Linked DNA regions of Homo sapiens. The protein of the gene in region 2 interacts with the protein of the main gene of each other region in a biochemical or structural test. Each region holds a gene or a part of one and is shown on either strand. Other genes may lie near its edges. The genes, in order: KIF14 and TUBGCP2.

What was found.
Region 1: the proteins of TUBGCP2 (region 2) and KIF14 interact in a test that uses a peptide from one of them, tested with the Homo sapiens proteins (one study listed by BioGRID).

The regions. Positions count from the first base shown.
Region 1 is NC_000001.11:200,618,941-200,622,853, forward strand, and holds the start of KIF14 (kinesin-like protein KIF14), read right to left. Parts: upstream 1,812-3,913; 5' UTR 1,471-1,811; exon of another isoform or gene 1-1,470. UniProt on the Homo sapiens protein: Microtubule motor protein that binds to microtubules with high affinity through each tubulin heterodimer and has an ATPase activity. Plays a role in many processes like cell division, cytokinesis and also in cell proliferation and apoptosis.
Region 2 is NC_000010.11:133,301,977-133,305,889, forward strand, and holds part of TUBGCP2 (gamma-tubulin complex component 2), read right to left. Parts: intron 1,005-3,913; 5' UTR 966-1,004; coding exon 816-965; intron 1-815. UniProt on the Homo sapiens protein: Component of the gamma-tubulin ring complex (gTuRC) which mediates microtubule nucleation.

The DNA.
Region 1 (3,913 bases), on a different chromosome or scaffold from region 2:
TACAATAGATCACAATCTGCAGCTCAGATACTGCTTCCAAGCAACTTCAGGCAAGTCTCTCAGAGAACTTACCATCATTATTCAACAAATATTGACTAAGTTTCCATTAGTGCCAGGCCCTCTGATAGATACTGTAGACTTCAAAGACAAGAATACAATTCCCATTTCTTTAGTCTAGAAGAAATATACTGATAAGCCATATATCAGGCCAAATGTGTCAAGTGACTTAGAAGATGTAAAAAGTGCATGCCAACATAGATTTTCAAGTACTTCCAGTGTGGGGAATGGGAAGGACTAAAGGAAACCCTAGCACCTAAATCAGAGTGTGGAGCAAAGTATTTTTATAAATACCTGCTACACGTATTTTTTTTTTTTGCCAATGTTCCATAAGAAGGTTTATTTTATTTTATTTTTATAAAAATATTTTTTTTGAGATGGAGTCTTGCTCTGTCACCAGGCTGGAGTGCAGTGGCACGACCTTGGCTTGCTGCAACCTCCTCCTCCTGTATTCAAGCAAATCTCCTGCCTTAGCCTCCCAAGTAGCTGGGACTACAGGCGCCCACCACCATGCCCAGCTAATTTTTGTATTTTTAGTAGAGACGGGGTTTCACCATGTTGGCCAGGATGGTCTCGATATCTTGACCTTGTGATCCGCCCGCCTCGGCCTCCCAAAGTGCTGGGATTACAGGCGTGAGCCACCGCGTCCGGCCCATGTATGTTGAATACAGGAATGCCTATAGAGAAGATTGAATTGATTGGTGTCACGAGGCAGATTATTCCCAAGTACCACAGGCAGTAAGTACGATAAGTACTGTAAATTAATTGTGTTGAGAAAAACCATGCAAGATTAGATAAACAGACAACCTGCCCTTTAGCAGTAAGACAACAAATTAGACAGAGGTGTATGTAAATATACAGCAACAATATCTATCAGGTATTAACGTTTTAAAGAAAGGGAACAGCAGTGACAGCTAAGAGACCTGGCTTTTAGTCAGCTTTGTATCCAACTCCTTACAAGGATGTAAACAAGACTTTAAATTTGCATGCCGGGTTCTAACCTGTAAAATGACACTGGTTCAAACTATTGCAAAGATTATTGCTAGCGAGGAACAAATTAATGGAAGTTCATTTTTAAATGAGGCTTTTAAATTTTTACATAAATAACAGTCATTACAAAAAAAATTCGTCAGCTTATAAGCATCTCCCATCAACGTTTCAACTCAAAATACAGAATTTTCCTGTTATGAAATGAATTTAAAGGCAAAAAGAAGATTCTGGAAATTCTCTTGCAACTAAAAACCATTTGCGATTTGCACAAATCAATACGGTTTCTGTTTGAGGAGTTTCGCCATCAGATTTTAAAGAGGACTGGAAGGAATACAAGGAAAATAAGCACAATCCAAACCAAAACATCCGGTGATTCTGTTCTTTCTCTGCTAGTCATTACCAGGGGCTATGACTAAGAATTACCTCTTAATGCCAACCGACTCGGGGAGACTCGGGGAGAAGCCCACGGGCCGAGAGGCCCTGAAGTCCGGCTTCCCGGTCCCAGCAGAGACGCTGCCTTGCGCCCTTCGTTCGGGGACCCCTTCGCCGCCGACCTGGAATGCTGAGGAACTGAATGGGGGACTGGAGCTAAGACCACCCGCCCGCAGAGCAGTGGTCGCCTGTAGGGAAAGCGTCCGCACGCCCTCCCCAGTGCCGAAACTTCGCCCCTCCGCAGGGTCCGGCACCTTGGGGACCCCCTCGACACAGTCCCCACGCCACTCACCACCTCCAGCGCCGGCTCCCCAGAAGGCCGCAATTTGAATGGGCGCCCCGCCTTCTGATTGGCTGCTGGGCGTCGCGTCGGGTGCCGCGCCTTTGCTTCCACCCGCCCCCCGGAAGTGCCGGTGGTTGGGCTCCGGTAGCCGTCTCTGAATGCTGGACTCGCCCCACCCTCATCTCCCAGGCAACGCTCCCTCCCCTCCTCGGGTTCTGCTAAAGCGTGGAGCTTGGCCCCCTTTAAATCCGACCAGAGGAAGGGGCGGCGGTCGCGGGCGCAGCGGGCCCCTCGTTGAAGTGGGTGTCAAACGAAAAGCATGACAGTGACACTCTTGTCGGTCTTTAATCTAAAAGAAGCCATTACATCGAAGACTTCACATTGTAAATGGATATTTGCCCCCAAGTTAATCATAATAATTAACTTTTCTAGTGTTTCCTATGCAAGGCGTTCACGTAGGAAATATGCTAAATGTCTTATATGAATTTTTAAACAGTCCTGAAAATCTTGTGAGATAAATATTAATGTTATCCCTCGTTTACAGATGAGGAACTGAGGTTTAGAGTTAAACTTGTGAAAGATCAGACAATTAGCAGTGGCATAACTAGAACTTGAAGGTTCTTGCCGCCGTACAATGTAACTCCGTTTCAGTAAAAGTTCCCTTTTTTTAATTTTTTTTTTCTTTTTTGAGACGGAGTCTCGCTCTGCAGCCCAGGCTGGAGTGCAGTGGCCCCTGCAACCTCCGCCTCCCTGGTTCAAGCGATTCTCCTGCCTCAGCCTCTGGAGTAGCTGGGATTACAGGCGCGCACCACCACGCCCAGCTAATTTTTGTATTTTTAGTAGAGACGGGGTTTCACCATATTGGCCAGGCTGGTCTCGAATTCCTGACCTTGTAAGCTGCCAGGCGTGAGCCACTGCGCCGCCCAGCCCCCATAAGATTTTGAAATCTGAAAAAATATTACAAATACATTCTGAAAAATAACCAAATAAATGAGAAAGACTAGATAAATAGATATTGTAAAGCAACAATGTTTTTTAAACAGGCAAAAAGTACAGAGATATTGAAGAAGTATTCACTGAGATAGAGACCATAAGTAGCTCCAATTATATAGACCAACCAAACAGATGATAAAGTACTCATTCTAAATCTTACTCTAAAAATCATTCTAAAACTCAATTAAAATTAAGGTATAAGGAAACTATCAGAAAATAGAATATAATATTTATCAGGGCCAGGTGCGGTGGCTCACGCCTGTAATCTTAGCACTTTGGGAGACCAAGGCAGGCGGATCACTTGCAGTCAGGAGTTTAAAACCAGCCTGGCTAACATGGTGAAACCCCGTCTCTCCTAAAAATACAAAAATTAGGCAGCCGTGGTGGCGGGCCCCTGTAATCCCCGTTACTCAGGAGGCTGAGGCAGGAGAATCACGTGAACCGGGTAGGCGGAGGTTGCAGTGAGCCGAGATCGCGCCATTGCACTCCAGCCTGGGGGACAAGAGAGAAACTCCGTCTCAAGAAAAAAAAAAAAAAAAGTTATCACATCTATGGGAAAATGATCATTCAATTTAGAAACAAAGCAAGATATGTCAAAGAAAAGACAGACAAACTCAAATACATAAAAATTTTAAACATATGTATAATTCAAAATAATAAAAATAAAATGTAACTGGAAATATATATTAAACATGACAGAAGACATAAAGACCTTTTTCAATTTTAAAAGGAAAATAAGCTCATAAATAGAATAAAGCAAGTATTTTTTTAAATCCACCAGAGGGAGACAAACAGAAAGAAAACGTGGAAAGAGTCGAAGTAAAACTGGCACGTTTGAAGCTTTCTGGATTATGTAAGATTTAAAGAAAAATGATTAACTCATGCTAATTAATGATCTCTTAAGATTAAATTTTTTTTTTTTGAGACGGAGTTTCGCTCTAGTTGCCCAGGCTGGAGTGCAATGGCTTGATCTTGGCTCACCGCAACGTCCGTCTCCCAGGTTCAAGCGATTCTCCTGCCTCAGCCTCCCGAGTAGATGGGATTACAGGCGTGCACCACAACCCCAGCTAATTTTGTATTTTTAGTAGAGAAGGGGTTTCTCCATGTTGGTCAAGCTGGTCTCGAACTCTCGACCTTAGGTGATCCACCTACCTCAGC
Region 2 (3,913 bases):
GTGCTGGGATTACAGGTGTGAGCCACCGCGCCTGGCCCAGTCCCTCCCTTTTTATCCACAGGAATGCACATGTCAGGACTCTCCCACCTCATGGCTGCAGGGGACAGAGTGGGGAAGAGGGAGGGTTCTAGGCCCAGCTTTCTCCATAGGCCTCCATTTACTCATCTGCACAGTGGGGTGAATCACAGGAGCTGCTGGGGGGAGTCAGGAGAATCAGAGCTGAACACACACACAGACCAAGTGCTGTCTGCCATCGTTGCCGGTACCATTGAGGCCACCCAGGAACGGGCACTCACCCTGCATCTTGCACGGTACACAGCCCTGCACCAGGGGCAGTGCTCACCCTGCACCATCCTGACCCCGGGGTGGCGCTCACCCTGCACCCCGCACAGCCCTGCACCAGAGGTGGCGCTCACCCTGCACCCTGCACCAGAGGTGGCGCTCACCCTGCACCCTGCACCAGAGGTGGCGCTCACCCTGCCCCCTGCACCAGAGGTGGCGCTCACCCTGCACCCTGACCCAGGGGCGGTGCTCATCATGCACCCTGACCCAGGGACGACGCTCATCCTGCACATGGACTGAGGGGTGGGTTCACCCTGCACCATCCTGATCCAGGAACAGTGTTCATCCTGCACCCTGACCCAGGGGTGGGCTCACCCTGCACCCTCACCCAGGAATGGTGCTCACCCTGTACCACCCTGACCCAGGAACGGCGCTCACCCTGCACCCTGACCCAGGGGTGGGCTCACCCTGCACCACCCTGACCCAGGAACAGTGCTCACCCTGCACAGCGCTACACCAAGGGCAGTGCTCACCTTGGCACTGTGAGCAGAGACAGTGGTAGTGACGTACGGGGTCCTGTTCTTTTGAAGCAGGTCAATGTAGACCTCAGCCCCATCTCCTCCGTGGACACGCAGCAGGCTAAGCAGTTCATTGACGTCATGGTGAATCCGAAATTCACTCATAGTTTTAGCTCTGAGGCACGAACATCACAATATGTTCTCCTATAGGTAAGAAGACAGCTATTCATAAAATTCAAACTGTAGAAATAAAAAACATTTTTTTAAACACTCAAGACTGGCCAATGTCAGGCTTTGACAAACCAAGTTATCACCTGGCCTGCCTGGCCTAGGGCCCCTCCCCCAACAGCCCAGCAGCCTCTCAGAGGGTCCTCTGCATGGGCCTGGGATTAGGGCCCCTGCCCAACACCCCAGCAGCCTCTCAGAGGGTCCTCTGGACGGGACTGGGATTAGGGCCCCTCCCTGAACTCCAGCAGCCTCTCAGAGGGTCCTCTGCATGGGCCTGGGATTAGGGCCCCTCCCCGACACCCCAGCAGCCTCTCAGAGGGTCCTCTGGGTGGGCCTGGGATTCACCTGCCTCCAGCTTCCAGGCGGCCTCCGCAGCTCCGGGAGCCAGCCCCGTGGGCAGCATGAATGGGGCCTGAGACCCAGGTTCCCTTTCCCCTGCACCTCCCTCCACACATGGGTCTGGGCCAGCAGGGAATGCTCTGCTGCTCGCCTCGGCTTGGGGACAGAGCTTTCTGGTCCCAGACGTGAGGCCTGTGGGGTCTACACAGGGAGCTCTGTGCAGGCCCAAGCCATTGACACTGTGCCAGCTACCGGCACACACAGTAACATCCCAGCTTCTACCGGAGAGGCCCACACTGGTTCTCAGAGCCCGCGGTGCTCAGCCGCAGCTCCATTCACTTGGCCGGCTCTGCGTTACTTTTTCACTCTGGTACCCGTGACATCTCCTTTTCTTGCCCAAGCGTGGCTACCGACAGAGACGCTTCTGGTAGGACTTCTACACGTTCCCTACACGTTTGAGCTAGGTGAAGTTCCACTGCAGCTCCAGCTGCCCCAGGGGCTCACCAGGAGACATATAACACATATGAGATCGAAGGCGTCACAGACACCCAAGTGGGCAGCAGAACACTGCGTGGGGTCAGGGTGTAGGGTGAGCCCACCCCTGGGTCAGGGGGCAGGGTGAGCGCCGCCCCTACTCTCCCACCAGTGGCTGCTCATTAGCCTCTGTCACCAAGAGTTCCGATACAAGGCCATTAAGACAAACACATGGCTGTGTGCAGTGGCTCTCGCCTGGAATCCCAGCATTTTGGGAGGCTGAGTCAGGTGAGTCACTCGAGGCCAGGAGTCAAGACAGCCTGGGCAACACAGTGAGACTCTGTCTCTACAAAAAATACAAAAATTAACTGGGCATGGTAGCATATGCCTGTAGTCTTAGCTACTCGGGAGGCTGAGGTGGGAGGATCGCTTGAGCCACTCCAGCCTGGGCGACAGAGGGAGACCCTGTCTCAACAAAAAACAAAACAAAACAAAAAACACAGGCAAGGCAACTGGCTATAGATTACAAAACAAATATAAGCAAACTTTACATGCTTCACAAACATTTCATCTACACAAGGGTTCTTAAGCCGGTATCCATGAGTAATCAGTAACAGATGAGCCCTTGAAAGTTATGGGCAAAATAACTTTTTATTTTCTGAGGAGATGACCCTTCAACAAATTCTCAAAGGCTCTATGACCCAAAAAAGGTAAACAACCACTCTGCTGACAGCTTCAGGGAGACAAGGATGAGCTCAACAAAACATCGAGTGTGGGCGGCAAGCCACCCAGGTGCCGAGGCAAGAGACCGAGGGCACGAGCTGTTCCAGTGTAACAAAATATATAAAACAACAAGAGTTATGCTAGATCTAGATCATAGATATGATTATATATGAATATCATTAATCATCAGTTTGTAGCAATTACTCTTTATTCCAATATTATAATAATCCTTGCTCTACAATCATAACCTAGGAAAAACCAGGCCATACAGAGATAGGAGCTGAGGGGACATAGTGAGAAGTGACCAGAAGACAAGAATGTGAGCCTTCTGTCATGCCCGGACAGGGCCACCAGAGGGCTCCTTGGTCTAGCGGTGATGCCAGCGTCTGGGAAGATGCCCCTTGCCAAGCGGACCTTGGTCTAGCGGTAGTGTCAGTGTCAAGGAAAAACACCCGCTACTTAGCAGACCGGGAAAGGGAGTCTCCCTTTCCCCGGAGAGTTTAGAGAAGACTCTACGCCTCCAACTCTTGTGGAGGGCCTGACATCAGTCAGGCCCGCCCGCAGTTATCCGGAGGCCTGACTGTCTCCCTGTGATGCTGTGCTTCAGCGGTCACACTCCTGGTCTGCTCTCATGTTCCATCCCGTACACCTGGCTCCGCCCTCTAGATAGCAGTAGCAAAATTAGTGAAAGTATTAAAGTCTTTGATCTTTCTGAAAAGAACATAGAAGAAATAATGACATAAGCTGTCCTCTCTCTCTCCGCCTCGGCTACGTAACAGGGAAGGGCCCCATGTCTGGTGGACACATGACACACATGACCTTATCAATCATTGGAGATGACTCACACTCTTTACCCTGCCCCTTTTGCTTTGTATCCAATAAATAACAGCGCAGCCAGGCATTCGGGGCCACTACCGGTCTCTGCGTCTTGGTGGTAGTGGTTCCCCGGGCCCGCTGTCTTTTCTTTTATCTCTTTGTCTTGCGTCTTTATTTTTACAATCTCTCATCTCCGCACACGAGGAGAAAAACCCACCGACCCTGTGGGGCTGGTCCCTACAATAGAGTACAGAAGACTCAGCACATACTCCCACAATATGCTAATTCACTAACGATTATTAGCACGGGACTCGACACCGAGATTCTAATCCTGTGTGATGGAAGACAGTTTATCTGTAGATGAACATCAAATACTGGTCACAGGCAGGGTATCTCCGAAAATGGAAGGAGAGCGATAAGAAGGCATGGTGCTGAGTTGCTCACACACATGCTTTTGACCCAGGAGGTGCTCACGGTAACTACAGTTCAAGCACAAGGCCAGCAGGGCACGCGCCATGGAGCCCCATGCAGTC